Homo sapiens: one gene and its partner. Changing the gene in region 1 together with any one later gene gives a genetic interaction. Each region holds a gene or a part of one and is shown in the gene's direction. Other genes may lie near its edges. The genes, in order: PMVK and NF1.

Evidence for each region.
Region 2: changes in PMVK (region 1) and NF1 together harm fitness more than expected from each alone (negative genetic interaction), as found in Homo sapiens cells (one large-scale study listed by BioGRID).

What each region holds. Positions count from the first base shown.
Region 1 is NC_000001.11:154,929,900-154,933,719, reverse strand, and holds part of PMVK (phosphomevalonate kinase), read left to right. Parts: intron 1-1,304; coding exon 1,305-1,368; intron 1,369-3,820. UniProt on the Homo sapiens protein: Catalyzes the reversible ATP-dependent phosphorylation of mevalonate 5-phosphate to produce mevalonate diphosphate and ADP, a key step in the mevalonic acid mediated biosynthesis of isopentenyl diphosphate and other polyisoprenoid metabolites.
Region 2 is NC_000017.11:31,339,157-31,342,976, forward strand, and holds part of NF1 (neurofibromin), read left to right. Parts: intron 1-1,348; coding exon 1,349-1,489; intron 1,490-3,820. UniProt on the Homo sapiens protein: Stimulates the GTPase activity of Ras. NF1 shows greater affinity for Ras GAP, but lower specific activity. May be a regulator of Ras activity.

The sequences.
Region 1 (3,820 bases):
GAGTTTGAGACCAGCCTGGCCAACATGGCAAAACCCCGTCTGTACTAAAAATACAAAAATTAGCCGGGTGTAGTGGCGGGCGCCTGTAATCCCAGCTACTTGGGAGGCCGAGGCAGGAGAATCGCTCAAACCTGGGAGGCGGAGATTGCAGTGAGCCGAGATCGCGCCATTGCACTCCAGCCTGGGTGGTGGAGCAAGACTCCGTCTCAAAAAAAAAAAAAAAAAAAAAGGTTGGTTAAGTAAATTAAATAACGAATGAGTTATTTTTATTTTTATTTTCATTTTTGAGATGGATTTTCACTCTTGTTGCCCAGGCTGGAGTGCAATGGGGCGATCTCGGCTCACTGCAACTTCCACCTCCTGGGTTCAGGTGATTCTCCTGCCTCAGCCTCCCGAGTAGCTGGGATTACAGGCATGCGCCATCATGTCCGGCTAATTTTATGCTTTTAGTAGAGACAGGGTTTCACCGTGTTGGTCAGGCTGGTCTCAAACTCCTGACCTCAGGTGATCTGCTGCCTCAGCCTTCCAAAGTACTGGGATTACAGGCGTGAGCCACCACACCTGGCTTTTGTTTCAGTTTTTTAAATTTGCTTTTCTTATTTCATTTTTATGAGACAGGGTCTCACTCTGTCTCCCAGGCTGGCATACAGTGGTACAATCATGGCTCACTGTAGCCTGGAACTCCTGGGCTCAGGAATGCTCCCACCTCAGCCTCTGGAGTAGCTGGGAGTACAGGCACATGCTGCCATGCTCAGCTAATTTTTAAATTTTTTGGTGGAGATGGTATCTCTGGGTCTTATTGTGTTGCCCAGGCTGGTCTTGAACTCCTGGCCTCAAGCACTCCTCCTGCCTTGGCCTCCCAAAGTATTGGGATTACAGGTGTGAGCCACCATGCCCAACCAGTGAATTAATAAATGATATATGTTATGGTGACCAAGTCAGTGGAGACAGATACCTCTGGCTATGAGAGAATTAGTTTAGGGTCTGGGCAATAACCTAATCCAGCTAGAATATTGTGCGCCTGTTCACACTGTAATTAGCACTTTATAGGTTTTACCTGTTAGTTTCAGGGCTCTTTTATATTCTTTAGAGTTTCATAATAATCCTGTGTGGGAGACAGAACAGAAAGTGTTATCCCCATTTTCTGATGAGGAAACAGGATCAGGGACATTGAGACCTACCAAAGTTACATAATACCAGTAGTAGAAATGGGACTTCAACACAGGCCTCTTGACTCCCTTTCTGGGACATGGAAGCTCCTGGAAATTCTAGGCTAACTGGATTCTGATCTCCCTGTCCTGCAGACTTGGAGCTGATGTCTGTGCTGTCCTCCGGCTCTCTGGTCCACTCAAGGAACAGTATGCTCAGGTAGGTGGTGCTTTGTGGCATCCGGTGTGTTGGGCGGGGCCGGCTCCAGGACTTTGGAGCTGTGGCTGCTGCCTGAGTCACTGGCATGATTCCCGTCACCACTGCTGGCAGGGTGGTGGCCAGCTCTTGGTTTTCTGTGAGTGGACCTTTCGGGGGCATTTTCAGCTTATATTTCTTTCCTAATAGCCTCCCTCCCTTCAGAGTGAGTTCAGGAAGGTGTGCCCAGGAAAGGCTGTCGACACTCGAGTTGGCAGCTCTGATGCTGTGTGATTAGTAAGGACCTGCCTGTGCCTCCTCACACCACCCTCTCACTCAGCTGGCCTGACACAGCCCCTAGAACTTTGCTCCTAGAAATTTAGTACAGGCCGAGCACGGTGGCACATGCCTGTAATCCCAGCACTTTGGGAGGCCGAGGCAGGTAGATTGCTTGAGTCCAGGAGTTAGAGACCAGCCTGGCCAACATGGTGAAACCCCATCTCCGTTTCTTTAAAAAAAATTTTTTTTAAAGTAAACAACAACACACAAAAAAGAAATTTAGTCCCAGAAGTTGTCAAAATATATCATTAAGTGAAAAAAAAAAAAAGCCAATACCAAGATATAGAACAGTGTGTAGAGAATGCTACATTTGTCTAAAACTGAAGAGGCACTTTGTGACCAAGAATTGTAAAAGAATTCTAAATATATCTGCTCATATATTTGGCTATTTAACAAATATTTACAGGGTGCCTGTCTCATGTTCAGCACTGTTTCAGGTGCCTGGGATGTGTTCCTGCACTGCATGGGAAAGACAGGTTAGAAACCGTACCATTGGTTGCCCCCAGGGAGGGGACAGGGTGAGAGAGAGATTTTCGACTGTAAATTAATGTGTATCTTTGAATTTTGAACCACATGGATTAAAAAAAATAGAATCGTTAAAATAGAATAAAAAAAATAAGTCAACAGGAACTCTCAGAATCTTAGACTTCAGAAAGGGAACTTGGAAGGCAAGATCAGCCTCCCACATGGTGAAGAGCCCTCTTGTCGCCACATTTTGCCCTTGACCTCTAGGTGCACCCTTCTGGGACGTGTGCTTTGGCCCCTCAATTGGCCAGAGTGTGGTTTCCGGAACCACATAAAATGAATTGTCCCCCCTTCTATATGCCATCTTTGCCTCCATGGGAAGCATTGGGTCATCTCTCACCAGCTGAACAGACCTATTCATAGGGTGGCAGCCTGAGGAATTGTAAGAATAACTAAATTAAGTGGTTTATTTTTTTTTCTTTTTGAGACAAGGTCTTGCTCTGTAGCGCAGGCTGGAGTGCAGTGGCGCATAATGGCTCACTGCAGCCTTGACCTCCTGGGCTCAAGTGATCCTCCCACTTGAGCTTCCCAAGTAGCTAGGAATACAGGTGCATGCCACTATGCCTGGCTAAGTTTAAAATTTTTTTTTGTAGAGATGGGAGTCTCATTATGTTGCCCAGGCTGGTCTCCAACTCCTGGGCTCAAGTGATCCTCCCACTATGGCCTCCCAAAGTGCTAGGATTTGGGCAGGAGCTACTTTACCTGGCCTGGTTTTCAAAAATTTTAAGCAGGATTCTTTCCCAAATGAAACTGGATACAGAATTTCTTTGTATCCAGGAGACAGACTGGGAGCGATGCTGCAGGGTGGTGGGGTGGTGGTGGGGGGATGGGAGGAAGGAAGGGGTGAAGGGGAAGGCACTGAGCCTTCCCTAGTGGGGCCTAGGCACTTCCAAAGGCCTCCCAGGAGCACTTTCAAAACTGATCTTCCAAAGTTCCCAGACAGGTCTTGCTTCTGTCCTACTGAGTGAGACTGGTGGGGTTGGGTGGGGGGCGGGAGGAAGAAGGAGCAGGAGTTTGCATTTTTATTTATTTATTTATTTTATTTATATTTGAGACGGAGTCTCGCTCTGTCGCCCAGCCTAGAGTGCAGTGGCACGATCTTGGCTCACTGCAACCTCCACCTCCTGGGGTTCAAGCAGTTCTACTGCCTTAGCCTCCTGAGTAGCTGGGATTGCAGCCATGGGTGACCACGCCCGGGTAATTGTTTTGTATTTTTAGTAGAGACATGGTTTCACCATATTGGTCAGGCTGGTCTTGAACTCCTGACCTTGTGATCTGCCCGCCTCGGCCTCCCAAAGTGCTGGGATTACAGGCGTGAGCCACTGTGCCTGGCCAGTTTGCATTTTTAAAAGCTCCATGGAAGACTCTGATAGGCCAGACTGCCCTTGCTCTGTGCAAGTCCAGCACCACTCTATCCCCCACTCCCATTAAAAAACAAAACCAAAATGAAATGTTCATGCATTGATTTCCTAAGTCACAAGAAGAAATATAACCAACAAGTAGACCACAACGCTCCTGGAGGGAAACTGGTTCAGGAGCAGGAGGTGGCTACTGACCTCCTCTTGCAGCAAGGGGAGCAGGTGGGTGATCAAGAAATTGAGAGCCTGAGGGG
Region 2 (3,820 bases), on another chromosome or scaffold:
GCCTTCATGGAGCTTACTTTCTGGGGTGGGTGTGGAGGTTGGGGAGTGAATGGATAATGAAGTAAACAAAATACGTAGTATGTTAGTGATTATTACTATGGAGAAATTAAAGCTGGGAGAAGTATACTTGATCGTCATAAGAGTTTGGGTGCCAAATGAAGATTATATTTAAAAGGAGTAAAATGAAGTGGCCACTGTTTTAGGATGGTCTGACCTTATCCCATTTTTATATTTAAGATATCTGGAAATCATGTTTTTGTATTAATAAAATGAAAAAGATTCGATAATGGCATGGTATTACCATCCAGTTCTAAAGTGGTTTAATTCTGTGATTTGAGTACAAAGGTATGCCAGACTTGGGAGAAATAACAGAGAAATAATACCTGTTATATTCCTGGTTTGTCTACAAGCATTCTAATTTTGTATTATACAAAATGGTTCTCTGGTCCCCATCTTCTAAGTGAAAATGAGCTCAGAAGGGCTAAATAACTTGCCCAAAGTCACATACCTAATAAAAGAACCATGATTCTAATGTGATACTATTTGACTCTAAAGTCCATGTATTTTCCCTAATATCACAGTGCTAAGTAAAGATTGCCAGTAATAAATACTTTTAATTCAGAGCAGCAAGAGATTACCATACTGGTTAAGAGTGACAAGAAGTTGAAAAGACAGTTTAAAATAAAGTTAAAGGGAAACATAGGAGTTAATGTAGGTAGAGAGAAAGGGAGAGAGCTGCACAAGAATGCCAGGACAATGGAGGGAAGGTGGGTAGAACATTCTAGTTGTAATGGAGAAGCTTTTCAAAGGAATCGAGAGAGGGAAAGTTGTGAGGACTGGATAGACCTCATCTCACATTCAGCATTGTTCAAAAGAGTTTGGAAATGTACAGTTTTTAAGCAGACAAGTCATACGATGAAAGCAGGACTTAGCTCCTGGTGGTAGTGTGCACAGTGGATTGGAGTAGGGAGAAACTGAAGTAAAAAGAATCCACCTTTATAATAAAGAAGGTTGGCATGTGGTAATGTCATTAGCAATAAGAAAGAAATGACAAAAGATACAAAAGAGACTACTCTAGAAGAATCAACAAACCTTGGTGACTGGATTTAGAAATCAAAGAACAGGGAGAAGTCAAAGGAGGTGCTAAGTAACGTTCTCAGTCCAGCTAACAGTGTCTTTAGTTATACATATGGAAAAGTGAAGAGCTTACTCATATCTTTATCTTCCCCAAAAGAGAAAACATGGGTAATTTAGGAAGATAAGCTGCTTTATTTTTAACTGCAGTGTGTTTTGAAAGAGACTATGTCATGATTCATCTTACTAGCCTCAAACATATCTTCTTTGCCAGGACTCGCCTCTGCACAAAGCCCTCTTTTGGGTAGCTGTGGCTGTGCTGCAGCTTGATGAGGTCAACTTGTATTCAGCAGGTACCGCACTTCTTGAACAAAACCTGCATACTTTAGATAGTCTCCGTATATTCAATGACAAGGTAAGCAAACTTTGCCTTGAGGTTCCTAGATTACTCAAATTTAGTACTCTTCCATCTTTTCTTGTTGCTATTCTTTTAAAATCACAAGAAGTCCATAACTTAAGTAGGAATTTGTATAATGTAACTTATTGTGAGTATATTTCCTTACCAGCTCATAAAGAACTATGTAAACTTGAATGCATATTTTTTACATAAAAATAGCAAAAAAAAAAAAACAAAAAAAAAACAGTACTGGCCTAATACTAGTAGAATTACAGAATAAGGATAAATAATACATGATCATCCTTACAGAATGAGCATAAACAATACATGGTAATAATATTAATAGCTACCATGCCAGGCCGTATGCTAAACACTATACATTTATTTTTAATTTTCATAACCTTAAGGTAAAGGTTAGCATTCTCTGCCCCCCATTTCACACGTGAAGAAATAATCTAAAAGTAATCTTAGTTTTACTTAATAATGCCACTTAATGAAAAATACGTATAATTCATAGTAGATAAGGAAGTTGGAGAGTCTAAAGGAAACTTTTGGGTACTTAATTTTACTAGTTTTTTTATTCTGTCTAATCTTACTTTAAAATATACCATTAGTGGCCAGGAGTGGTGGCTCATACCTGTAGTCCCAGCACTTTGGGAGGCCAAGACAGGTGGATCAGTTGAGCTCAGGAGTTAGAGAACAGCCTGGGCAACTTGCAAAACCCCATCTCTACAAAAAAGGCAAAAATTAGCTAGGCATGGTGGCATGCACCTACAATCCCAGCTACTCGGGAGGTGAGGTAGGAGGATTGCTTGAGCCTGGGAGGCAGAGGTTGCAGTGAGCTGAGATCACGCCACTGCACTCCAGCTTGGGCAACAGAGCAAGACCCTGTCTCCAAAAAAAAGTGTGTATACATATATTACATACACACATATATATGTAATGTATGTGTATATATATATATAAAGTGTGTGTGTGTGTGTGTGTGTGTGTACACACATAAAATATGTAAAATCCAACTCCAATTAAGGTTAATAAATGTTAGGAGGGGTGCTAATGGGGTGTGTGTGTGTGTGTGCACGTGTGCATGTGTGTGTGTATATATATATGAACATGGGCAAATTACTTCTTAGTTCCTTTCTAATTTGTAAAATGGAGATCTAATTGGGGTTGGATTTTAGTTCATAGAGAATAGAGGAGAGAATAAAATAGTATGAAATTACGTCCCTTTTGTCTTTGGATAAAAATGGGAAGGGTCTAGGAGAAAAGAGGGGAATGTTTTTAAAAGAATGTGTATATACAGTGAGATTTGCTTGAAGTGAAATTAACTGAACTGTGGGTACAAAGAACAGGATTATGGTTTTAAGTGTAAAAAGATACTTGGTCTAAACATTATTAGTTCAGTCTACCAGATGTAGTGTGAACCTGGAACAGATATGGGTCTGAAAAATATAGAAGCAAAATTTTAGAGGTAAGAGGTCTTATGGAGTTTATTAATCAGACCTCCATTTTGCAAATTAGAAAGGAACTAAGAAGTTAAGTAACTTGCCCATGCTTGTACATCTGTTTTGGGACTAGAACCCCTCTGTCCTAATTCTCATTGCCGTTTTTCTAAAACTGTTTTGGGACAGTGGTGGTCAGCGATATCTAGTTGTTGGCTATTTATATGTTAAGAATATTTGCAAATTGGCCGGGTGCAATGGCGCATGTTTGTAATTCCAGCACTCTGGGAGGCCGAGTTGGGAGGATCACTTGAGGTTAGGAGTTCGAGACCAGCCTGGCCAACATGGTGACACCCTGTCTCTACTAAAAATACAAAAATTAGCCAGGGTGGCACATGTTTGTAACTCCAGCGACCTGGGAGGCTGAGGTGGGAAGATCTCTTGAACCCAGGAGGTTGCAGTGAGCCAAGGTGGTGCCACTGCACTCCAGCCTGGGCGACAGAGTAAGACTCCATCTCAAAAAAAGAATATTTGCAAATGGAGCATTGCAAATGGGGCATCTGCCTCGGTATTTTCATCTTCAAAACAGCCCAGTAGCGGGAGCTAATATTGATTCTAGTGCCCTTTGGATGCTAGGCATCAGAGTTAATAAGCATGTTAAAAGTCACCGGGATGTAAATTGACAGTCATTTATTTTGTATTGTAAATAAAAGTGATTTCATCTTCCACCATCTTCTTATTTATATGCTTGACTGTCTTGCACCAGTTAATTTGTAGTAGCTAAAATGTTCTGTGGTTTTCTGCAGTCAACTGAAAATAATTTCTCTCAAATTGAAAGGATTACTTATCTTGTCATACTATTGAACACAAAATTAAGTGAGCCTTTAAAGAAAGCTACTGTGTGAAC